7 linked regions of the Homo sapiens genome follow. The protein of the gene in region 2 interacts with the protein of the main gene of each other region in a biochemical or structural test. Each region holds a gene or a part of one and is shown on either strand. Other genes may lie near its edges.

Evidence for each region.
Region 1: the proteins of PDLIM1 (region 2) and KCNA1 interact in a test that uses a peptide from one of them, tested with the Homo sapiens proteins (one large-scale study listed by IntAct).
Region 3: the proteins of PDLIM1 (region 2) and PKN2 interact in a test that uses a peptide from one of them, tested with the Homo sapiens proteins (one large-scale study listed by IntAct).
Region 4: the proteins of PDLIM1 (region 2) and SLC15A2 interact in a test that uses a peptide from one of them, tested with the Homo sapiens proteins (one large-scale study listed by IntAct).
Region 5: the proteins of PDLIM1 (region 2) and SLC23A1 interact in a test that uses a peptide from one of them, tested with the Homo sapiens proteins (one large-scale study listed by IntAct).
Region 6: the proteins of PDLIM1 (region 2) and NET1 interact in a test that uses a peptide from one of them, tested with the Homo sapiens proteins (one large-scale study listed by IntAct).
Region 7: the proteins of PDLIM1 (region 2) and NRXN3 interact in a test that uses a peptide from one of them, tested with the Homo sapiens proteins (one large-scale study listed by IntAct).

The regions. Positions count from the first base shown.
Region 1 is NC_000012.12:4,914,867-4,918,756, reverse strand, and holds the end of KCNA1 (potassium voltage-gated channel subfamily A member 1), read right to left. Parts: 3' UTR 501-3,890; downstream 1-500. UniProt on the Homo sapiens protein: Voltage-gated potassium channel that mediates transmembrane potassium transport in excitable membranes, primarily in the brain and the central nervous system, but also in the kidney.
Region 2 is NC_000010.11:95,239,004-95,242,503, forward strand, and holds part of PDLIM1 (PDZ and LIM domain protein 1), read right to left. Parts: intron 1-3,500. UniProt on the Homo sapiens protein: Cytoskeletal protein that may act as an adapter that brings other proteins (like kinases) to the cytoskeleton. Involved in assembly, disassembly and directioning of stress fibers in fibroblasts.
Region 3 is NC_000001.11:88,687,273-88,690,772, reverse strand, and holds part of PKN2 (serine/threonine-protein kinase N2), read right to left. Parts: intron 1-3,500. UniProt on the Homo sapiens protein: PKC-related serine/threonine-protein kinase and Rho/Rac effector protein that participates in specific signal transduction responses in the cell.
Region 4 is NC_000003.12:121,900,901-121,904,400, reverse strand, and holds part of SLC15A2 (solute carrier family 15 member 2), read right to left. Parts: intron 1-3,500. UniProt on the Homo sapiens protein: Proton-coupled amino-acid transporter that transports oligopeptides of 2 to 4 amino acids with a preference for dipeptides. Transports neutral and anionic dipeptides with a proton to peptide stoichiometry of 2:1 or 3:1.
Region 5 is NC_000005.10:139,366,696-139,369,996, forward strand, and holds the end of SLC23A1 (solute carrier family 23 member 1), read right to left. Parts: intron 3,023-3,301; exon of another isoform or gene 2,104-3,022; coding exon of another isoform or gene 2,038-2,103; intron 937-2,037; 3' UTR 501-936; downstream 1-500. Other genes in the region: PAIP2 (polyadenylate-binding protein-interacting protein 2), read left to right, coding at 2,038-2,103.
Region 6 is NC_000010.11:5,419,057-5,422,556, reverse strand, and holds part of NET1 (neuroepithelial cell-transforming gene 1 protein), read right to left. Parts: intron 1-3,500. UniProt on the Homo sapiens protein: Acts as a guanine nucleotide exchange factor (GEF) for RhoA GTPase. May be involved in activation of the SAPK/JNK pathway Stimulates genotoxic stress-induced RHOB activity in breast cancer cells leading to their cell death.
Region 7 is NC_000014.9:79,860,373-79,863,872, reverse strand, and holds part of NRXN3 (neurexin 3), read right to left. Parts: intron 2,835-3,500; coding exon of another isoform or gene 2,532-2,834; coding exon 1,909-2,531; 3' UTR 1-1,908. UniProt on the Homo sapiens protein: Neuronal cell surface protein that may be involved in cell recognition and cell adhesion. May mediate intracellular signaling. Functions as part of a trans-synaptic complex by binding to cerebellins and postsynaptic GRID1.

The sequences.
Region 1 (3,890 bases), on a different chromosome or scaffold from region 2:
AACTATCAAGTCAGTTGATTCCAGACCACAACTCTGTTACACTCACACACACAGTCGTGTCTCTGTCTCTGTCTCCCTCTCTCTCTCTCACACACACACCCACAATTATTCTTCCTGCAAAGCTTCTCAGACTGTGCATAAAAACTAGTTTCAAATCAAAACAACTTAAGTGGATATAACCAATTACTTTGTTCCCCTGAGCCTCATTTCTTGTTTTATTTTGAAAGCTTGATCCTCCTTCCACTCTAACTTCCACAGGCCAAATTCCAGTGGTCTTCACTTGGGATCTTACCTGAGACCAAACTGAATTTATCCTCAAAAGGTAACCCCCGGATATGTCCTTGGACAGCAGAAACAGACCACGTGGGCCAAAGGAAACAAGTCTGTTTCATGATCTGATCTTGGATTCACCCCACTATTTAAAGAGACCCCACAGAAGAAGGGAAGAAAAGGGCCCCCAAAAGACCAGTTAAACAAGAGACAAATAACCAGTCAAGATATTCCTTGATAAGATCCTTAAAAAGTATCTTTAATTGATGCCAAATATGAACAGATCGTAAAGTGACAGAAGCAAGTAAAATTGCATAGATGAAAACTATGCGCATCAATTAGGTTCTCAATTCATAACATTCAATGTCCTTGACCTGACATATTACACAGTTAGAGAAGGGAGAATGCGCAGTAGGTGAAGATGAGACACGTCCTTAACTCAAGGTGGAAGCAACTGGCAAACTCAAGAAATAAAATAGCGTTTTTTCAGCTTAAATGGTTTGTTGTCCTGATGGTGCACTTTAAATTAATACTACTCAATTTTTATTTTTAACCTCAGTAATACTTTATCTTTACTATTAGAGGCATGTCACATGGAGTCCATGTTGTCTACTTACATCTGCTGCATAAACAGTCCCAAAACAGTGCGCTGAAGAGAAGAAAGGTGCTTCTGCAAGGTTTGGAGAGGAGACAACTTTGACCTGGAATATTTTACAAGAGATTTCTTGTTTTGTTTTGTTTTCTTTCCATACACCATTTCTTCTTCTTTGATTGTGGTACAAAAGTTTTCTATACTCTTTGAAGTTTCACGTCATAAAGAGTAAACTCCTAGTTAGCTCCTAAATGAAAATCACTGTGACTAGGGTTAATCTCCTTAAAGCGAAAAGCCCTGAGGTCAGCAGGGCCTCACCCCTTACATACATGCTGGACTTCCCAAGAAAGCCCAGGGTCATTTTGCCTGAGCAAAGAGGCTGGCATTTAATCCCAAGGCTTCTAAACTTTATATCTGTACCCTGAATTAGTTTGCACAGTGACCCAAGGTAATGGAACAGTTTTGGTTAACAATTCAGCTCCTGTTTGCTTCTTTACAAAAATGGTAAGTAACATACATTCTTTAAAGGTTTACCTGAGTCATACTAGACATGTTCACATATACCCTGAAATTCCATGATATAAATACAGGTAGTAATATGCCACATGGTGAATGAGAGTTCACCTCCTGAGATCACAATTCAACTTGGGTTGTGTCTGGTCTTAAAATTTTAGTTTGTTTGTCTTCTTAAAATGAACATAAACATCAAAAGACTTCATTCTTGCTTGGAAAAGCCTGAAGATAACATGCTTGTTTGGCAGTTTATATTCTTTCTAACAATTTTATACTATGGATGGTTACCACCCACCAATTCTCACCACCCCAGGAATAAGTCATTCCTGGAAGAAAATGGGAAAGTGCCTTCTGCTAATGTTCTTTCTCCTTTCTTTCAATCCAATCTACCAAACTAAGAATTAAAATGTAAAATTGTTAAAAAGCATGTGTTTTGAGGTCTCCTATATTAAATGAGAGGGCTAGGAAACTATTTTTATTGACTTTTAGATGGTACCTAATTTGAAAAACGTGTAACTATACACAATGTGAAGAAGGCCTTTTATAGGCTAAACCAAATTTCTACTTTAAAAAAATGTATTCCTCATTTACCATTTACATGTATTTTTTTAATTCTCAAGCAAATCAAGATTGTGACACCACCTGTGCTTCACGTCCACCATAGTGGAATCTAAACCTGCCCTACAATTCATTTCAGGGAAATGACTGCCCACTGGCCAGAATCCTGGAGAAGGACTTGCTATTGGTTTATCTGATTCTGCAAGGCTCACCCACGAACACACTCCCAATGAGCTGATATAACTGAAAATCAGAACTCAAGTCTCCAGGGAGTGCAAGGGGAGTTGGGCACAAATGGGAAAAGGGAGATGCAAAAACAGAAAGTTTTCCTGGCTAGAATTTGTCTTCTAGAAATCTGAGGACAGAGGAAATGAATGTCTTTGGTCTCTCTGATTCAGATCACTTCAGGTGAGTTAACCACTTCAGAGATTCTGGGATGGCTAACAGCCCTGGTGTGACCAACTCTTCTATTGCCACCCTATTGAACTAGGGCCCCAATAGACTGGAAGAGAGGAATTATAGCTATCAGCACATCAGAAGTCTTCTCCTTCTGGAGAAAACACATAGTCAGGACATGAGCTGTTACAGCTCCATGCCTAGGAAGGGGAAGAAAAGGTAAAAAGGCTGCTAAAATAAATATGAATAAGTAAACCAAAAAATAGTCATCCCTTAATAGGCAGTTTTGTTAAGTGCACCTTCAGGTCTACAAAGACATTTCAACACATTACAGTGCGAGGGTAAGAGCTTGGTCAAACATTGCATGCCTATGCTACACAGATAATCCCTGTACTCCATTCTTACTGAATTCATTGCAATGAGCTACAGATGAGCTAAGCAGCATTCACTTTCCTCACACCACCCCAAACTCATAACAACAACTCACCCCCAGTCCCAGACTGACAGGTTCACCGCATGCAGCACTTTTTTCTATATCACATGCAGAAGAATCAACCAGTCCAGAGTGTAACCACGGTAAATATACCAAATACCCAAAGTCAGTCTTGGTGCCGTTTTCTCATCCATTAACCCATCCATCCCACAGTACTGAGTGGATTATTGCTGTTGACAGAGTGCGGTGTTTCAAGTTCTGTGTGCACTAGACCTCAACGTTGAAATGAAAGATCAAGATAACCCCAAGCCTGGGAGGAGGTTGGCATTTTTTTCCTAATTGGGGATTTTTAAGCAAGTAGGAAAGGAATCGCCAGAATGAGTTAAGGTTCAGACGAGAAGGAGACATCACATGGGAGGGTTTAATGCCCTGTAGTCGGATGCTGCGCAGTTCTTGGCCCCTCATCTTCCACGATGTGTGTTGTGTTCATCTCACAGATTCACAAAAGTCACATAGGAAAATAAGATATCCATGTTCTTTCTTTTAATCGAGTTAGCCAGAATGGGTGTAACTCGAGTTTCTAGGGTGATTGCCTCACTGCTAGTTCTAGGACAGGATGGGGGAAAGGGGTGGGAGAAGCAGGACAGATTTTCAGAAGAAGCTGGGCCAGAATGTCAGGTAACAGGCAGCCACATGCTAAGTGCAGAATGAAGATTCCCCACCTCAGGGTCCTTTGAAAGGCTGTGAGTACCTCTCCACCGGTGGGCAGCTGCCGAGCTCCAGAGGCCTGTGTTCCGTGGCTCTCTTTCAGCCAGGAACAGGGTCCCCACCATTCTCTGGGCTGGGTAACGGGGGGGCAGCAGAAGTTAGATGTTCAACCTGTGAAGTGACTGCCAGGTGGGAAGATCATAGGGGCATCAGGAAATATCTGAAAGGGGTAGACCAGGAGGGAAGGCCTAGGAAAGGTTATTATGAACTGAGTGTTCCCACATCCACAACAATGCCTGAAAAGACTGGACCGTCAGAGAGATTTGCAAAGTGCTGTTACCGACAGAGAAAAAAATAAGGAAAGGTGCCAGGAGCACTACACTGGACCTGAGGAAGCCTTGTGTGTCCAAAGTGGCCCTC
Region 2 (3,500 bases):
TGGTAGAAGAACAGAGAACAGAGAACCCAGAAACGAGACCACACACCCACAACCATCTGATCTTTGACAAACCTGACAAAAACAAGCAATGAAGAAAGGATTCCCTATTTAATAAATGGTGCTGGGAGACCTGGCTAGCCATATGCAGAAAATTGAAACTGGATCCCTTCTTTACACCATATATAAAAATCAGCTCAAGATGGATTAAAGACTTAAATGTAAAGCCCAAAACTATAAAAACACTACAAGAAAATCTAGGCAATACCATTCAGGACATGGGCATGGGCAAAGATTTCATGATGAAAACCCGAAAAGCAATTGTAACAAAAGCAAAAATTGACAAATGGGATCTAATTAAACTAAAGAGCTTCTGCACAGCAAAAGAAACTATCATCAAAATGAAGAGACAACCCACAGAATGCGAGAAAATTTTTGCAATCTATCCATCTGACAAAGGTCTAATATCCAGCATCTGCAAGGAACTTAAAACAAATTTACAAGAAAAAAATAAGCCGGGCACAGTAGCTCACTTCTGTAATCCCAACACTTTGGGAGGCCGAGGTGGGTGGATCACCTGAGGTCAGGAATTTGAGAATAGCCTGGCCAACATAGCCAAACCCCCTCTCTACTAAAATTACAAAAATTAGCCAGGTGTGGTGGCATGCACCTATAGTTCCAGCTACTCAGGAGGCTGAGGCAAGAGAATCACTTGAACCCAGGAGGCGGAGGTTGCAATGGGCTGAGATTGTGCCACTGCACTCCAGCCTGGGCAACAGAGCGAGACTCCATCTCAATAAAAGAAAAAAATAACCCCATTAAAAAGTGGGCAAAGAACATGAACAGACAGTTTTCAAAAGACATACATGCGGCCAACAAACATGAAAAAAAGCTCGACATCACTGATCATTAGAGAAATACAAATCAAAACCACAATGAGATACCGACTCACGCCAGTCTGAATGGCTATTATTAAAAAGTAAAAAAACAACAGATGCTGGCAAGGTTGTGGAGAAAAAAGAACGCTTTCACACTGTTGGGATGTAAATTAGTTCAAACATTGTGGAAGACAGTGTGGTGAGTCCTCAAAGACCTAGAAGCACAAATACCATTCAGCCCAGCAATCCCATTACTGGATGTATACCCAAAGGAATATAAATCATTCTATCATGAAAATACATGCACTCTTACGTTCATCACAGCACTCACTATTCATGATAGCAAAGACATGGAATCAACCTAAATTCCCATCAATGATAGACTGGATAAAGAAAATGTGGTACGTATACACCAGGGAATACTATGCAGCCATAAAAAGGAACGAGATCTTGTCCTTTGCAGGGACATGGATGGAACTGGAAGCCATTACCCTCAGCAAACTAATGCAGGAACACAAAACCAAATACCACATATTCTCACTTGTAAGTGGGAGCTGAATGATGAGAACAGATGGACACATGGTGGAGGGACAAGACACACTAGGGCCTGTCAGATGGTGGGGAGTGGGGGAAGGAGAACATCTGGAAGAATGGCTGATGGATGCTGGGCTTAATATCTAGGTGATGGGATGATCTGTGCAGCAAACCACCATGGCACGTCATTACCTATGTAACAAACCTGTGCATCCTACACATGTACCCCTGAACTTAAATGTTGGAAATTTAAAAATAAATAAAGTTCTTAGAAAAGAAATCCACATCACAGATAGAACAAAACCATCAGAATACAGCATGCTACAGCAGGCAGATAACAATCATCTCCTACAGAGCAGAGGAAGGAGCCTTTCTGTAGTCAGCCTGGTGCGTGTAAAATAAGCCCCTAGTAGCTAGATGCTGAGCTGCCTAAGGCCCCACTCATCACATCTTAGGTAACAAAGCCCTGTACCATGGTAGCTATTAATAATGGTAAAAATCACCTGGAGGCCTTGTTAACACACAGATTGCTGGGCCCCACCCCCAGAGTTTCTGAGCCAGAAGGCCCAGGATGGGGCCTAAGACTGCATTTCCAACAAGTTCCCAGGCGCCACTGATCCAAGAACCACTGGACAAGAGCAAAGAAACAGCTTCCTGTGCCAGGTGAGGGGATGAAGAGAGGGTCACCCCATGACTGCAGTCACGTCGGGCAATCGCGGGGCTGACAGACAAGGGCCTTAGCTCTCTTGTTCTTTCAGAAAGTGAGTCCCTGTATGCTGACCAATCCTTCCGAACCAAAAATTGAGACACATGTTCACACAATGGACATTTATTAATTGTTTATTTTTACTGATTAGAGATAGCATCTCGCTATGTTGTGTCTCAAAGTCCTGCCCTCCAGCGATCCTCCCACCAGAGCTTCTCCAGTAGCCACTGTGCCTGGCAACAAGGGGCATTTAGAATACATGGTTGACTGTATTTTGACCACAATTACCCCGCCCCTCTCTTGCCATGCTTACCTCCAGTCAGTGGTTCCCTACTGGGGGCAGTTTTGTCTCCTAGAGAGCAGTTTCGATTGTCACAGTGAAAGGGGATGCCACTGGCGTCTAGTGGGCAGAGGTCAGGGATGCTGCTGAACATCCCAAAATACACAGGGCAGCCCCACAACAAGGACTCATATGGCCCAAAATGTCAATAGCACCAAGGCTGAGAAACCCTGCTCTCGATGGAGTAGACTTCCCCATCCTGACTTTAGCCAACGTGAGCAGATGTGAGCCTTATACAGGCAAAAGCACTAAGGGCACTTGTGTGGTTTGGCCCTGTTCCCACAGAGGTATTGCCTCTGCCATGAAAACAGCAAGCACCAGAGTGCCTCTCCCTTCCCTGGGCTTGAATGAGAGGACTCGGGGCCTGGTCCAGCCCTGCCAAGCCCAGCAGAGCCACAGCTATCCGGTAGCCCTCATAAATACAGATTACCCACTGCTGAATAATACAATATGAGAGATGGTTTGGGGTACTTGGCTGGCTTATGGGGAACAACAAGAGGGTATATGTGAATGCAGCCTGAACTCTCAATAGCCCTATCATGCTGCCATGGCTCAGACTTAGGCTTCCCCCCTCAGAGCTGGGACTATTCATCGCTGGGAACCGATGCACACAGATGTCCACCTGGCAGCACATGAGATGGGGCTGAGATTAGGAGGCTCCATGGTTTTAAGTGGTGAGCTCTACAGATGGGCTTGGGGAAGACTCAGTTCTGCCCCACCAGCAGGTGCATAAGGAGAAACCACCTTGGTGCTTCTGTTCTCCCCGAGCCTAGGGCAACTTCTTGCCCTTCCCAAGCCTTCCTCCCTTCCTTTGGGAGGAGGCCAAAGTTCCAACTTTGTTCACCATATATTTTACCTGTATTAATTTTTTTAATATTGCATTTAAATGTCATTTTTTTTCATGATTATTGAGTTTTCCAGTGCCCCCTTAAATTCTGCACTCAAGGCCGGGCGCAGTGGCTCATGCCTGTAATCCCCAGCACTTTGGAAGACCAAGGCGGGCAGATCACTTGAGGTCAGGAGTTCGAGACCAGCCTGGCCAACA
Region 3 (3,500 bases), on a different chromosome or scaffold from region 2:
TTCATTTTTTACAGGCAATATTTATGTATATAATGTTACACAAATTTCATTTTTGTGATTGCAAAAAAAAACCAAGTATGATAATAGAGCTAGTTTCAAACAAGATTTCATCAGATAAAATTAAGACAAGCTAGACATGCATCAAGATAAAGATTCTCTATTTCTGTTTCATTAAGGAATTACTTTTTCATTAGTATATTTTTCCCACTCTAAATTTTAAATCTTTTTAAAGCTTTTAACTAGTTTTCAACTTTGCTGTCAAGTTTGAACTCTGCTGTATATCAAAAGTTGATCATATTAAATGTCATATACTGTAGAGTAAAATTGGCTTTTGAAATAATATAGACATTTGACAATTATCAGCACAGTATATTTTATGAGGGAATAATGTAGAATTAACTGTTTTATTCAAATACCATTTATGGTATGAAAGTAACATTATTTTAGGTGATGTTTACAAACTACTACTTTATTTGTTTAAAAGTAAACATGCTTCTGATGAATGGCATGAAAATTTACCATTGCCAAATTCAAAAAGCAGAAATAAGAGAGCCCAAGGAATCAGATGCTAAGCTCTGGGATAAAGAGATGATGTCTAAAAGGTGCCCCTACTTGTCCCTATTTCAACACTATGTGAATGGTAGGAATTGCATGATACTAGACCTAATCTCTATTACACTAATGAGAGATGACAAAAAAATCCATTTTAGAGCCATCATTTAGTAACACTAGTTTTAACACAGACTTTTATCTTGGTAGTCAAGAAATATTTGGAAAGTTATTTAGTATGTTTAATTCAGCAAAGTATGCGCTGCAAATTACAAACATTGTGGTAGTCTATAAGAGCAGCAACAATCAAACCTAAGCCGGAAAAACACACTGTATTGCTATATTATTCAAAGAAATTGTTGCTATACTTCATTACTGTCTATTACTAAATCCATACTACTGCACTTTTCTTTGAGACAGGTTCTCACTCTGTCACCAAGGCTGGAGTGCAGTTGCGTGATCTCAGCTCACTGCAACCTCCGCCTCCTGAGTTCAAGCAATTCTTGTGCCTCAGCCTCCCAAGTAGTTGGGATTACAGGCACACATCACCACACCTGGCTAATTTTTGTATTTTTAGTAGAGACAGGGTTTCACCAAGTTGGCCAGGCTAGTCTCGAACTCCTGACCTCAGGTGATCCGCCTGTCTCAGCCTCCCAAAGCACTGGAATTACAGGTGTGAGCCACTATGCCCAGCCTGCACTTTTCTTCTTAATAAAGCCGTGACTCATAATTGAAATATTTTGAGATTAAAAAAGGCAATAAAAGCTAATTAGATCCACTCATCTAGAACCAGTGGCAAGAAAAAAGTTTTTAACCTACTGTGATTTCTATCTTAAAATTCTCTGAGCTTCATTTTTCTTCAAAATTCTAGTAAGTAAAATGAGATAAAGAAAAAAAAGAAAAAATGGACTCTACAGCCATGGGACTTTTAGGTGGAAAAAGTCTGTCAGTCTCTAAGTGACAGAACTATGAGCAACTTTTATTTTCTTTTGTGCTTTTCCACATTTTCTGGATTTTCTGTAATACATGTGCATTACATTTCTAATTTGAAAACAATGTAAAGTCTGTCTTAACTACCCTGTTTACCTTCTCATACCACCAACCCCCAAACCACCCTAAAATTTTAATCCTCCCAACTCAGACCTTCCACTTTCCAGTGTCACTGCAAAATTAGATGCCGTCTTCTCATTTTCCATTAAATGAGTAAACTACCAGTGTGCTATATGGAAGAATGATGTAACTACTATAGAAATCCCTTTTGTACTTTTAAAGAGAATATTTTTGGGAGAAGGGATTAGAAATGTAAATTAAAGAAAACTACGTAATTTCATATGTCAAAGATTATAATGAACTTCTCTTAAAATAACCTAGACATCCCTCCTCCTACGTGACAAATGGAGCATTCTCATCAATGTATTGCGCACCTACTAAGTGTCAAACACAGAGCTAGGTTACATGTGAGTATAAAATTTTAAAGCAAAGCACAGTCTACAGAGTAATGTTAAATCTTTTGGGAAGTTTTGGGCAAGCATGTGACACCTTTCATTAGAAACAGTAATTCTTAATGAAGAAACCCTGTAAAAAGATTATTTGTACTATTATTCTTTGTGAAATATTAGACTGTATCTACAATAATAAAACACTGCTAAATTATAGACTACCAAGTGGAATGTAGAAATCATTTTTCCTTGTTACAGACGGAGCTAACAAGTAGTGTAAAGTTAATGTTGGTTAATTACGTTTTTGGCCAATTTGTAGAAAGTTCATACAACTATAACATTAGATGCAAAACATTTATAGTTCCCCAGAACTGTGGCAATTTAAATAATGGTGTAGTGGCGCCGGGCATGGTGGCTCACACCTGTAATCCCAGCACTTTGGGAGGCCGAGGCAAGCGAATCACGAGGTCAGGAGTTCAAGACCAGCCTGGCCAACATAATGAAACCCCGTCTCTACTAAAAATACAAAAAATTAGCCGGGTGTGGTGGCAGGTGCCTGTAATCCCAGCTACTTGGGAGGCTGAGGCAGGAGAATCGCTTGAACCTGGGAGGTGGAGATTGCAGTGAGCAGAGATCACACCACTGCACTCTAGCCTGGGTGACAGTGCGAGACTCCGTCTCCAGAAAAAAAAAAAAGAATAGTGTAGTGGGAAACATACAGACCTGGGTTCAAACTCAGACACACAATGTAACCATGAGCAATTTCCTTAACATTCTTGAACTTGTTTCCTGATCCACAACATGGAAATAACACCTACCTTATTGGATTGTTGTGAAGATCAAATAAGGTGTATAGGACACTAAGTACAATGTCTGATATATAGCAAATAATTTTTAAAATGTTATTTGTAGTCTCTTATAATTATCTTCTAGTACAATTATCTATACTCTCTTCTGGAAAGCAAAAACCTATCTTGTCATCTTTATATCCTCCAATATAGCTTTGGTAGATACTACATAACTGTTTGGTGAAATTAACCCCTGTAATTTAAGGGTAACTATCTCAACTTTCCACTTGAGCAAGTTACCTCTATCTAAATAAAATCTGCTGAGAATGGAATTTAAGATTCCCAGACCAACACTTTATTGGGCATTTTGATGAAGAAAATGAATCTCCAATAATCAACAAGGTAGCTTTGTTAGTACACTGCTCAATATTTGGTCTGCATTCTACAAAATTACCATTGTAGCCAACACTTTCATTCTGAGATTCTTTACAGTTTTCATTAATCCAGGTTTCTTGGAAATAGACTTTAGTTTCTTTGGCATTGCAAAAATGTCTGTTTTCTGCTATACTTCAAATAAAAAAAGAGAATACAACACAACAAATTAGTTATGAGATAAAAATTAGAAATTGGCCATTTTAAACAGCCGATTTTTATTTTTACTACAGTAAATATTCTTCCTTATACCTTGAAACCTCTAGCCACCAAAGTTTACATAGTTTATTAA
Region 4 (3,500 bases), on a different chromosome or scaffold from region 2:
CACTTCTATTCAACATAGTGTTGGAAGTTCTGGCCAGGGCAATTAGGCAGGAGAAGGAAATAAAGGGTATTCAATTAGGAAAAGAGGAAGTCAAAATGTCCCTGTTTGCAGATGACATGATTGTATATCTAGAAAACCCCACTGTCTCAGCCCAAAATCTCCTTAAGCTGATAAGCAACTTCAGCAAAGTCTCAGGATACAAAATCAATGTACAAAAATCACAAGCATTCTTATACACCAATAACAGACAAACAGAGAGCCAAATCATGAGTGAACTTCCATCCACAATTGCTACAAAGAGAAAAAAATACCTAGGAATCCAACTTACAAGGGATGTGAAGGACCTCTTCAAGGAGAACTACAAACCATTGCTCAATGAAATAAAAGAGGATACAAACAAATGGAAGAACATTCCATGCTCATGGATAGGAAGAGTCAATATCGTGAAAATGGCCATACTGCCCAAGGTAATTTATAGATTCAATGCTATCCCCATCAAGCTACCAATGACTTTCTTCAGAGAATTGCAAAAAACTACTTTAAAGTTCATATGGACGCAAAAATAGCCCACATTGCCAAGACAATCCTAAGCCAAAAGAACAAAGCTGGAGGCATCAGGCTACCTGACTTCAAACTATACTACAAGGCGACAGTAACCAAAACAGCATGGTACTGGTACCAAAACACATATATAGACCAATGGAACAGAACAGAGGCCTCAGAAATAACACCACACATCTACAACCATCTGATCTTTGACAAACCTGACAAAAACAAGCAATGGGGAAAGGATTCCCTATTTAATAAATGGTGCTAGGAAAACTGGCTAGCCATATGTAGAAAGCTGAAACTGGATCCCTTCCTTACACCTTATACAAAAATTAATTCAAGATGGATTAAAGACTTACATGTTAGACCTAAAACCATAAAAACCCTAGAAGAAAACCTAGACATTACCATTCAGGACATAGGCATGGGCAAGGACTTCATGTCTAAAACACCAAAAGCAATGGCAACCAAAGCCAAAATTGACAAATGGGATCTAATTAAATTAAAGAGCTTCTGCACAGCAAAAGCAACTACCATCAGAGTGAACAGGCAACCTACAGAGTGGGAGAAAATTTTTGCAATCTACCCATCTGACAAAGGGCTAATATCTAGAATCTACAAAGAACTTAAACAAATTTACAAGAAAAAAACAACACCATCAAAAAGTGGGCAAAGGATATGAACAGACACTTTTCAAAAGAAGACATTTATGCAGCCAACAGACACATGAAAAAATGCTCATCATCACTGGCCATCAAAGAAATGCAAATCAAAACCACAATGAGATACCATCTCACACCAGTTAGAATGGCAATCATTAAAAAGGCAGGAGACAGCAGATGCTGGAGAGGATGTGGAGAAATAGGAACACTTTTACACTGGTTGGTGGGACTGTAAACTTGTTCAACCATTTCAACCATTGTGGAAGACAGGGATCTAGAACTAGAAATGCCATTTGACCCAGCCATCCCATTACTGGGTATATACCCAAAGGATTATAAATCATGCTACTATAAAGACACATGCATACATATGTTTACTGCAGCACTATTCACAATAGCAAAAACTTGCAACCAAGCCAAATGTCCATCAATGATAGACTGGATTAAGAAAATGTGGCACATATACACCATGGAATACTATGCAACCATAAAAAAGGATGAGTTCATGTCCTTTGCAGGGACATGGATGAAGCTGGAAACCATCATTCTGAGGAAACTATCACAAGGACAGAAAACCAAACACCACATGTTCTCACTCATAGGTGGGAATTGAACAATGAGAACACTTGGACACCAGGCGGGGAACGTCACACATGGGGGCCTGTCATGGGGTGGAGGGCTGGTGGAGGGATAGCATTAGGAGAAATACCTAATGTAAATGGCGAGTTCATGGGTGCAACAAACCAACATGGCACATGTATACCTATGTAACAAACCTGCACGTTGTGCACGTGTACCCTAGAACTTAAAGTATAATAAAAAATAAAAATTAAAATTAAATTAAAATAAAAAAATAATAAACACGTTTAAGAGAGTGGTTCTAAGTGATTGCCCAGGTCAAAAATCAAAACTGATGAGCCTGGGTAATAGGATATAAAATCTAGGAACTATGACTAAAAATGTTTTCCTTTCTTAAAACCAACTTGACACTACAAATAGCATCCTTGAGAAACCAATATGCATGTTTAATAATTTTTGTTTTCCCACTGCGTACCTATTGATTAGTCTTTCCTGTATGTAGCTCTGAAGGAAGCCTCACTTCTTTCCTGGCATAGGGAGTTCCTTAAACAAGAGTCAGGGACTCTGGATGCCCATTTCCTCTTAACATATCTATTATTCTGGGATAGCAAACAGAGGAAAGATTTTTAATAGAAGTTGTTTACTAACTTCAGGAAATTGCCCCTTCAGGGTTTGAACAATCTTTCTAATGTTAGAGAAGGCTTTTCACCCTCAAAGTAACACGTGAATAAAAGTAAACACACCACACACACACACACACACACAAACACATACTCAGGCAGAGAAACATATGAGAGGTGGGGAAGAACTTAACGGTTTGAAACAAAAATCTATCCATTTTCCTCTAGCAAATGAAGAAAATAGGCTACAGGTTCAAATTAGAAAAGACAGTAAAGGAAGAGTCTTGTCTTTTTTCTGATTTTCCAACTTAAGGAAGGGTAGTTTTAAATACTTATTCCCTTTTGTTGCTGTTATCATCTGTTTGTATATGTTACACACACATGCACACGCACACACACACAAACATGACTACAGGAGAACAAGTTACCCACATTTTCTCAAACTACTCCCTTTGTGAAAGAGATACAAATCACCCCCAAGTTTTCTTATTTAAAAAGCAACCAAAATACCCACAATAAAATAAAAGTAACCTTCATGCCTGTCTACATCTATCTGCAGTCATGTGGCTACATTTGAGGGTCTGAGGGTGAATAAATTTATGAATTCGAAGATTTACTGTGGGCCTATCTGCTAGGCACTATTCTACGTGCTCTTGGATAAAAATATAAATCACAGCCGGGCACAGTGGCTCACACTTGTAATCCCAGCAGTTTGGGAGACAGAGGTGGGTGGACCACTTGAGGTCGAGTTCGAGACCAGCCTGGCCAACATGGTGAAATCTCATCTCTACTAAAAATACAAAAATTAGCCGGGCATGGTGGTACATGCATATAATCCCAGATACTCAGGAGGCTGAGGCAGGAGAATCGCTTGGACCTGGGAGGCAGAGGTTGCAGTGAGCCGAGATTGCATCACTGCACTCCAGCCTGGGTGACAGAGCGAGACTTTGCCTCAACGACAAAAAATATGTATATTATATATATACTTATATATTATACATATTATATACATTCATATAATATATAAATGACTGGGGTGGGTGGGGAAAAATATATATAAATGACTTTGTCCTCTAAGTGTTTGAAAGAA
Region 5 (3,301 bases), on a different chromosome or scaffold from region 2:
GGTTTGTTCTTCTCAGTCTATTTGATATTACTTTGTTTCATTCTTCTGTTGCTCCCAGAAAATTGTTCATTTAAGAACACTGTGCCTGGATGTGGTGGCTCATGCTTGTAATCCCAGCACTTTGGGAGGCCAAAGTGGGAAGATTACTTTGGCCCAGGAGTTCGAGACCAGCCTGGGCAACAAAGGGAGACCCTGTTTCTACAAAAAGTTTAAAGTTAGCTGGGTGTGGTGGCACAGGCCTGTGGTCCCAGGTACTTGGGAGGCAGAGGCCAGAGGATCACTTGAGCCCAGGAGGCCGATGCTGCAGTGAGCTGTGATTGTTCCGCTGCCCTCCAGTCTAAGCAACAGAGCGAGTCCATGTCTCAAAAAAAGAGAAAAGGAATGCTGCTTTTTTTTCTTAAACTTCACACTTTTAAAATGTAGATACATTATTTCCCTTGGGGGAAGGGAGAATATATCCTGTCCAAAGAAACTGCTATGTATAAATTACGAAACTAAAATTATTTCTTCAACATGATGTTTAATATTATGCATTAGTCTTGAAGTGATGTAGGGTCAAATTCAATGTAAAAGCCTTGCAGCATACCTACATTTCAGGCCCTGGAACCTGCCCTCATTTCTTTTTATTTTTTTCAACTTGCAGTCTAAAATATCACAGAGGAAAATTTCTAGCTGTTCTTCCTAGATGCTGACAAGTCTACTTAGGAGAGTAAAGATTTAGAGACATAGCATAACATTGGTACAAGTCTCTAAGACTCAGACTTTGGCCCATTCCCCCCCACCCCTTTTTTTTTAACTGATGCAAAAATTTGAATCCCAGAGAAAGGTGACTTATCTGAGTTTACACAGAAGTTAGTTAGGGGCAGGGCTGGGATTTCAGGCTTAGGTCTTCTGGTTCCCCATGTAGTTTTCTTTTCCTGTTATATACCATGCTTCCTGTGGGAATTAGAAGATGGCAATTGTAGAAAAACAACTCCACATTTTTAGTGAGGATTCTAAAGTAAAATCAGCAATTCCCCAGTTACTTTAATCATAATTTCAACACTTGTTTAACATGGTTCCTTGGTATTTAGTGTTTAAAGAAAGCTACATACCATAGTTCGATTAACAGAATTCCTTGTTCCGTGCTATTCCTTTAACTTATGTGAAGTTACTGGATTTCTGGTTACACTTAAGCAAACTGAATTTCAATTCCTATTTTCTCTTTAGAAAATTGATGTAATTTAGGCCGGGTGCAGTGGCTCACGCCTGTAGTCCCAGCATTTTAGGAGGCCGAGGCAGGCAGATCACGAGGTCAGATCAACACCATCCTGGCTAACATGGTGAAACCCCTTCTCTACTAAAAATACGAAAAATTAGGCCGGGCGCGGTGGCTTACGCCTGTAATCCCAGCACTTTGGGAGGCCAAGGCGGGCGGATCACGAGGTCAGGAGATCGAGACCATCCTGGCTAACATGGTGAAACCCCGTCTTTACTAAAAATACAACAAAAAATTAGCTGGGCGTGGCGGTGGGCGCCTGTAGTCCCAGCTACTCAGGAGGATGAGAGACAGGAGAATGGTGTGAACCCGGGAGGCGGAGCTTGCAGTGAGCTGAGATCGCGCCACTGCACTGCAGCCTGGGTGACAGAGTGAGACTCCGTCTCATAAAAAAAAAACTAAATAAATAAATAAAAATACAAAAAATTAGTTGGGTGTGGTGGCACGCGCCTGTAGTCCCAGCTACTCAGGAGGCTGAGGCAGGAGAATCGCTTGAACCCAGGTGGCAGAGGTTGCAGTAAGCCTAGATTGTGCCACTGCACTCCAGCCTGGGCGACAGAGCAAGACTCCGTCACAAAAAAAGAAAAGAAAAAGTTGATGTAATTTAATATGATATATAGCTTACATCTGGTTCTTCCTTTTTGGGGTTTAGTATAGTCTTACAGACTGAGTTCTTTTGTCTTTTTTTTTTTGGAAGATGTTTTTGCATGAGGATCTAGATTGAATTAGTACCTGAAACTGTGTTAATGAACTTGCTTTTTTATGTACTTATTTTCCAGGTCAAGAGCAATCTGAATCCAAATGCAAAGGAGTTTGTTCCTGGGGTGAAGTACGGAAATATTTGAGTAGACGGGGCCCTCTTTTGGTGGATGTAGCACAATTTCCACACTGTGAAGGCAGTATTAGAAGACTTAATTGTAAAAGCTCTCTTGTCACTGTGTTACACTTATGCATTGCCAAAGTTTTTGTTAGTCTTGCATGCTTAATAAAAGTGCTGAGACTGTTACTAAGTAAAAAGCTGTCAAACATTTACTGAAAATAGAATTGGCCCCATGGCTTGATGTGAAGACAGCAAGGAAAGAAGCACCAGTCAAGTTGTGAACAAGCACCAAATTAAAAGACCTAAACCTTACCAAATTGTCTTTTTTTGAGGCTAATCTATCACTTGTTAATGTCTAAACTTTAAAATCAGTACATTTAATTTGAGTTCCAACTGTTAAGCATATTTCTCAGACTTAAATTTGATTATGTCCCCATCAAAAAGAATCTCCATTTTCTGAAGGTCTGTTAGTTAATTTGAGATAATTTGTTAAAGGCAAGTATGTCATATTACTGAGGCTACAAGTTAGTCAGCAGATGAGTGCCAGTCCAGCCTTTTCTGGTATGTTATTGTTAGAAATATTGAGTTCTAATGTTACATCTGAGGAAGTATGTAATTTGAGAATTGTAACTTCTAAGGGATTCACTGCATCATAGCTATGCCTGTATGGAGTCTAACATATGACCAATACCAACCCATAATCCAGCTGAACAAAGATACTGTAACATGATTTGAGTGGTGCTTTTCCTTGCTTTGTTAACCATCACGAGAGTCTGCAGCACAACTTTTAACAAAGCTAGAACAGTTTTGGCTTCTTAAACTTCATATTTGGGTAGGTTAAGCTGCCATACGTGTTCAGTGTGAATAGTGTTTAAGTTGAAAATATTGTAAAAAAATTATATTTTTTCAAAAATATTTAAAAAAATAAATAATAGTAGAACTGAGCAGATGGTTGTGTTTATTGGTGCTGGAATGTACTGTAGTGGTGTTACTCACTTGAGTATGGGCCCAGTGCCTCAGGACAATCTTGCTGGCAAAATGTGCTAAGCTTTCAGGCTTTGTTAGATTCTAACAGGTATGTTGCCATGCAAGTACCTTTCCAGAATATAGCAGTAGAATAACTCCATTGCCCATCCTTGCTTCTTAATCACCTCAGACTTCAGTGTCAGGGGAATCCTAGATAGTCATGTAAGAAACTTTATGGCTGACCAATATGATGGTGA
Region 6 (3,500 bases), about 90 Mb from region 2:
AGGGAAGAGGGAACAGGGGATAATGACAACAGCAAGTAACAGAAGGAAAGAGAAATTCTGAAGGCTTCCATCATTAACAATCCAGTACTCTTTGGAAACAGTGTGGCAATTCCTTAAGATGTTAGTGGTAAGTTTACCGTAGGACCTGATAATTCCACCCCCAAGAATTTACCCAAGAGGAGTGAAAACGTATGTCTACACAAAGACTTTTTTTTTTTTTGAGACGGAGTTTTGCTCTGTCACCCAGGCTGGAGTGCAGTGGTACGATCTCGGCTCACTACAACCTCCGCCTCCAGGGTTCAAGCGATTCTCCTGCCTCAATCTCCCGAGTAGCTAGGATTACAGGGGCACGCCACCATGCCCAGCTAAATTTTATATTTTTAGTAGAGACAGGCCATGTTGACCAGGCTGGTCTCGAACTCCTGACCTCAGGTGATCCACCCGCCTCGGCCTCCCAAAGTGCTGGGATTATAGGCGTGAGCCACCGCGCCCAGCCTACACTAAGACTTACATGCAAATGTTCATAGCAGCATTATCCATAAAAGCACCAAACTGGAAACAAATCAAATGTACAACAGCTGGTAAATGGAGTTGACAAAATGTAGTATATTCATATAATGGAATATGGTTTGGCAATAAAATGAAATACTGATGTAAGTGAAAGAAGGCAGAAGCAGAAAGACTACACATTGTATGATTCCACTTGTATGTCCTGAAAATAGAAATTTATAGAGCTAGAAAGCAGATCAGTGGCTGCCTAGGGCTGGGGTGGGAGCAGGGATATTTGGGGTGATGAAATGTTCTAACAATGGATTGTGGTAATGACTGCACAACTCTATAAATTTACTGATAATTACTGAATTGTTCACCTACAAAGGGTGAATGTTATGATATACAAATCATATCTCAATAAACTATTTAAAAACATAGTCAACTTATTTGGGACCACATGGCCTTACAAGCTTCTGTGAGCATGCCTTTTATTTTTGGCAACTACTACTACTAATAATAAAGATCCTGGGTTGTCAAGAATTGATTTAAGGCTATACCTTTAACTGGATATCCACTGTACAAATCCATCAATTAATTTTACTGGAAAAACAAAATTCAAAGAGTAAGCCTTATCACTGTTGGTAGATCATAGGTCATACTATTATTTTTCTACCAATGGACAGCATTATTTCAAATCTGCAAAAAAGGAAAATATAAAATCCTTAAAAGGATCAGTATGTATTTATATTTCTGCCATATGGGTGATATGTAAAGTTCTATGGCTTTCCCTAAGGCCCCGAAAGACAGAAATAAAATTATTTAAACATTACTTGTGTCCAATTTTCAGGACCTTAGACATAGGTACTATGAAGTGAGATTTAGAGACTAAGTAACTTGCCCAAGGTCCTTAAGAGCCAGAATTTGAACCTAGGAAGTCTGACTGCTTTTAATGCCTAAAATCTTTAAACGTTACTCTTTGTCTATGGGTTCTAGTCTAAAAGAATGTTAAAAGAATATACATTCTCAAAGGAGAAGACAGAAAATAATTAGGTAAATCAAAGCTGAGGCCAGAACAGACTTGGTATCAAAAAAACTAGGCCAGAAAAGCAGTCCTCGTTCTGAGCTCTCAATCATGTAGTATAACCTAGGGTTCTTTAGAAAGACCCTTGCTGGCCGGGCACAGTGACTCATACTTGTAATCCCAGCACTTTGGGAGGTCAAGGTGGGCGGTTCACGAGGTCAGGAGATCAAAACCATCCTGGCCAACATGGTGAAACCCCGTCTCTACTAAAAATACAAAAATTAGCTGGGCGTGGTGGCGCTTGCCTGTAATCCCAGTTACTCGGGAGGCTGAGGAAGGAGGATCACTTGAACCAGGGAGTCGGAGGCTACAGTGAGCCGAGATCGCGCCACTGCACTCCAGCCTGGCGACAGAGCAAGACTCCATCTCAAAAATAAATAAAAAAATAAAATAAAAAAGAAAGACCTTTGCCTACTACCCAGAACTGGGAGGTGAGGAGAAAGACGTTAAGAGGCCTGTCATATTGTAGGGAATATCTACATAGAAAACATAACTGCTGCCCCAGAGAAACTTGCACAGGTGTATAGAGGAGATGTATCAACAAACAACCTAAAATCCCAAATACATCTTATACAACATACCAAATATATTCCACCTGAGTTATAAAAATTGTATATTATAATATCTCACTGTACAGAATATCATAATGTATTTAGCTTCCTCCTCCTGTTTTTTCTAACCTTTCTACTACACAAATGTGCTAGGATATACTTTCTTGTACATACATCCATGTATACTTGCCCATTACTTTAAGATAAATTTCTGTGGGTAGAACTGCTTGGTTTAAATATTTGCATTAAAATTTTGTTTTATTTGCTATATTTCCCTTCAAATACACATAATGGGAATATCAGAAAGAGAGGAAAAGAGAAAAGAGCAGAAAAAAACTTCAGAGAAACAATGGCTGAAGCTTCTCCAAATTTATTGAAAAACAACCACCTACACATTCAGAAAAAGCTCAATAAACTTCAAGTAAGATAACACAAAGATATCCACAGACAGACACATCATAGTAAAAATGGCAAAAGTTAAAGATAAGAAAATCTTAAAAGCAGCAAGAGAAAAAAACACTTGTTATTTACAAGGAACCCCAAAAAGATTCTGACTTCTTAACAGAAACAATGGAAGACAGAAGCAGTGTGATAACACATTCAAAGTGCTCAAAGAAAAAGAAAATTTCAGCAAAGAATCCTATACTATCAAAATTATCTTTCGAGAATGAAGGAGAAACAAAGACATTCCCATAAAAACAACAACAACAACAACAACAACAACAAAACAAAGAAAAAAAACAAACAGAGAATTTGTTGGTAGCGGACTTGCCTTACAAGAAATACCATAAGAATTTCTGGCTGAAAGCCAGTGACCACAGACGGTAATCTGAGTTCACATACAAAACCCAAAAAAGCCTAGTAAAAGCAGTGTCAATGAAAAAAATCAGTAAAGAAATTCAAATGCTATAAATTAGAAAATTCTCACTTAATGCAAAAGAAAGCAATAAAGGAGGAATAGAGAAACAAAAGACATATATAACACGACAAAATGGCAGACATAAATCCAACTATATCAATAAATAACGTTAAATGTGATTGGAGTAAACAACCCAATCAAAAGAAATGGACAGCCAGACAGGATCAAAACCAACCAACCAACCAACCAACCAACCAACCAACCAACCAAGATCCAACTATATGCTGTCCACAGGAGACACACTTTAGTTTCACAGATATAAACAGCTTGAAAATAAAGGGATAAACACGTATCATGCAAACAGCAAGCCACAAGAAAGCTAGAGTAGCTATATTAACATCAAACAAAATGGCCTTTCAAAGAAAAAAATGTTACCAAAGAGGGATATTTTATAGTGATAAACAGATTGATCCATCAGGAAGATACAATTACAAACATATGTGCATATAAAAACAGC
Region 7 (3,500 bases), on a different chromosome or scaffold from region 2:
TGCAACTTACAAAGACCAGCAAGAGTAGATTTCTAAATCTAAGCAGCTGATTGATTTTCATCTGTACAAAAGAAATTGTATATCTGACCCTCCAGAGGACACACTTCATTTTTGTGTGAATATTTGTCTTGCTTTGTCTCTTGCTTTTCGGATAGCTATGGCCATACAACCAGTTTATTGTTTTTCTGTACATTGTTTCCTCTTTACAAAAAGAAAAAGACAACCAGAATATAAACCAAACAGAAATAAACAGGAAAAAAACATTTCTTAAAGCAGTATGTACATAGGTGGCTAAGGAATTATACCAGCAAAAATGTAGTAAAATATGTAAACAAAATCTGAAGTTTTTTTTTTTAATTCTCTTTGACACAGTTAACTGTGACAAAACTAAAATTCACACTTTCTTCACATTTTAAGGTTTGCTTTTTTGTTGTTTTGCTATTTTCTTTTAAAACAACATTCTCATTCCATTTTAAGACTTTAACAGATTTCCTGTGTCAGTCATCCCATCAAACATACCATGATAAATATATCTGTATATATATTTATTTATATATATATTATACTATTAAATTCCTTTTGTGTGTGTGTCACAGCAGCTTTATTCATTTATTTGTTTTTAAAAAAGATGGGTGAAGAGAGAAGTGAGCAAATGGAAGGACAGAGTTATCCATAAATGTCAGGCTACAAAATTAAACCACTATGAAAACCATTGTCACATTCGGGGCGGGGAAAGAACTATGTGTTTTGTACTCTGGCATGACATGGTTGGCTTGTGTGACCTTTTGTGGTTCCATCACGAGTTGAACTCCCCTACTGTCTGGTTTGATAACAGACTTTAATATTGTCTTTTTTATTTGCATGCATTTCAATCAGTCACAGATCCAGCCCACCTCCCCTTCCTCTTCCCTAGGAAAGGCTGTTTTAGTTTGTGGGGCTTTCCTCTTTAACACAATTTGGCTGGGTGAATGGACAGGAACAATATTGTTACGTAAAGCCAATAGCTCTGATAACACCAGCCCTAAACCCATCTGTTCCGGGTTTGGGTGGTAAATTCTGAAATTAGATCCTGGGGGACCAGCTTTTCGAATCAATTTATCATCCGTCACATGAATTTTGCTATGTGTTCAGCAAAGCATCTTATAGGAAACAAACAACAGATTCTAGAGACACCATAACCTGATATGTAGAGTGAACACCATGATAGCTTTTGAGTTCATATGGCAATAGTCTCTCTCGCTTTTGTTTTGAGTTTTTTTCCTCTTCTGATGTCCAGTCATTATCAAAAAAATAAACAAAAACCCAAAAGCCATTTTTCCCCTCAGATCATAAAGTTACACGCACACTGGTCAGAACCAGATAAGGGTTGTGGGTTTTTTTTTTTGTTTGTTTTTGTTTTTTGGTGTTTTTTTCTTTTTTAACTTTTTTCTTTTTTTGTTGTTGTAGTTTTGTTTTTTACATAATTAAACAGAAAAAACATGGTTACAGTCAAGCTTCACAAACATTACAGACTCACTTGGAGTTATGGAACAAGTAAGCCATGAAGTCTTCTACCTTTTAGTAAAAGGTCCTCCGGAGAAGGAAGTTTCCAGGCCTGCGGAAGTGGTGGAGCCACCGTCCGGCTCCAGAGCGCTAAGTGTGTGCTTTATGATACAGCAGGGCACAAAACCTTCTGTCTCCCAGCGACCGCTGGGACCTTGCCGCAGCCGTGGCTGAGCTTTAGAGAGAGATGCATCGCTGTGTGTGTGTGTGTCCTTTAAAAAACGGTTTTCCCCACCAGAGTCGTGGTTATATACCCCATTTCATAGTTCCAGCAGTTCTGACATCTGTGAGATCTCACCGTCCAAAGATTCATAGGCGTGGATAGAAATAACTGTGAAAACTCGCGTGTGAGCAGTGTTCGCATGTTTACACGTAATACTCCCTGTCCTTGTTTTTCTGTTTCTTGTGGCCGCTCTTCGAGCTCTGCTGCTTCTCCTTCATGAGCGTGCCGTTGCTCTGGGCGGAGTTGCTGATGTAGTTCCGCGTCTCGTCCACTTGATAGGACCCCTCGTCCCTGTTCCTGTACTTGTACATGGCGTACAGGAGGATCAAGATGCAGAGGGCGGCAGCAGCCACAATGCCGACGACCATCCCTGTTGTGCTGCTCGACTCCCGGATCACCTCTGAGGCCCCCGGAACCCGTCTGATTCCCGGCTCCGTGGGGTTTGCTGTGGGCACATTACGGAACATGGGGGAAGTAATTAGTGGGCTCTTCAGTTTGGTGCTGTCTAGCTCATAGGCAGTGGGCAACGGAAGCAAGACTATATCAGGCTGGGGTTTGAGATCACGGTTATTCATTTTGCCAGCTGGCAATTTGGGCACCATCCCAGACGAGGAGGAAGCTGTGAAGCGGATCAGCTCAGGGGATAAAGATGTGGTAGTAGTCCTACTAGTTTCGGAGACTTTGTTAGGTCTAAAGTCCTTGGATTCCCACTTGGGCGCATGTGCTTTGTAGCCACCTTCGAAGATTGAAGTGGAAAGACTCTTATCTGTTACCAAGGAGAAGGTGGTGTAAAAATCTTCATCATCAGTAGGGGGCAGGTTAGAGTCAAAGGTTTCCCCTGAGCCATACCCAGATATCACCAAGCCATCATCATCACAACCATCGCTGCCTTGGTCCGACAAGCAAGGTAACCCCGCCTCAGAGGTCATGGACAGGGAATCTTTGGTGGTCTCAATAATGGTGAGGAGGGGGCGAAAGGTAGGGGGGAGTGTAATGGAAGGTGCACGAGTAGCAATAGGAGGGGTAGCTAAAGGGTCTTCTACAAGAAGAGGGATAACTAATTCACCTCCTGGGATGGAAAAGAAAAAGAAAAACAATTAGTATATTTGTAAACAACTCTCACTCAACCAACGTCATTCACAGATTATGCCTCAGAAATTATAATAAAAAGATCTGGATCTTTTCTGGATGGAGTCTAATCATTCTAGGCAGATTTGGAGCCTTCTGTATGCCTCTTGCCACCCAAACCTGAAATCCCTAGATCAGGGGCTTAGATTTTTTAAAGATACTCTCAAGTAATTATTTAGATAAAATTCAACTATATATGTTCTTTCCAGGATCTGCTTATGGGCTGATGACATTCAGTCAATGATACTGTTATAAATACTGGCTGGCTATCAAAATTGGCATGTGTGGGTACACGCACACATTGTGTGCTTAACTTAAGAATTTATTAACATGCGTTTAAGATTTCTTTATTGCCTTCTTGGGATTCTGCTCATTTGCTCCCAGGAGGATGAGAATGACCGATTCACCATCTTATTGAGACCAAGATCAAGAAACATAAAAGATTGTGTCTTTTGTGTTTTCTTAAGTTACTTCCTTTTATTTCACACTTATTAATCACAGTCCTTGTTTACTATAAGCTGAGCAATAGGGATTTTTAAAAAGTTAAAAATATTCATCTAACAAATCCATTTTGACCATGCTTTTCCAGAAATCCCCCTGACTATTA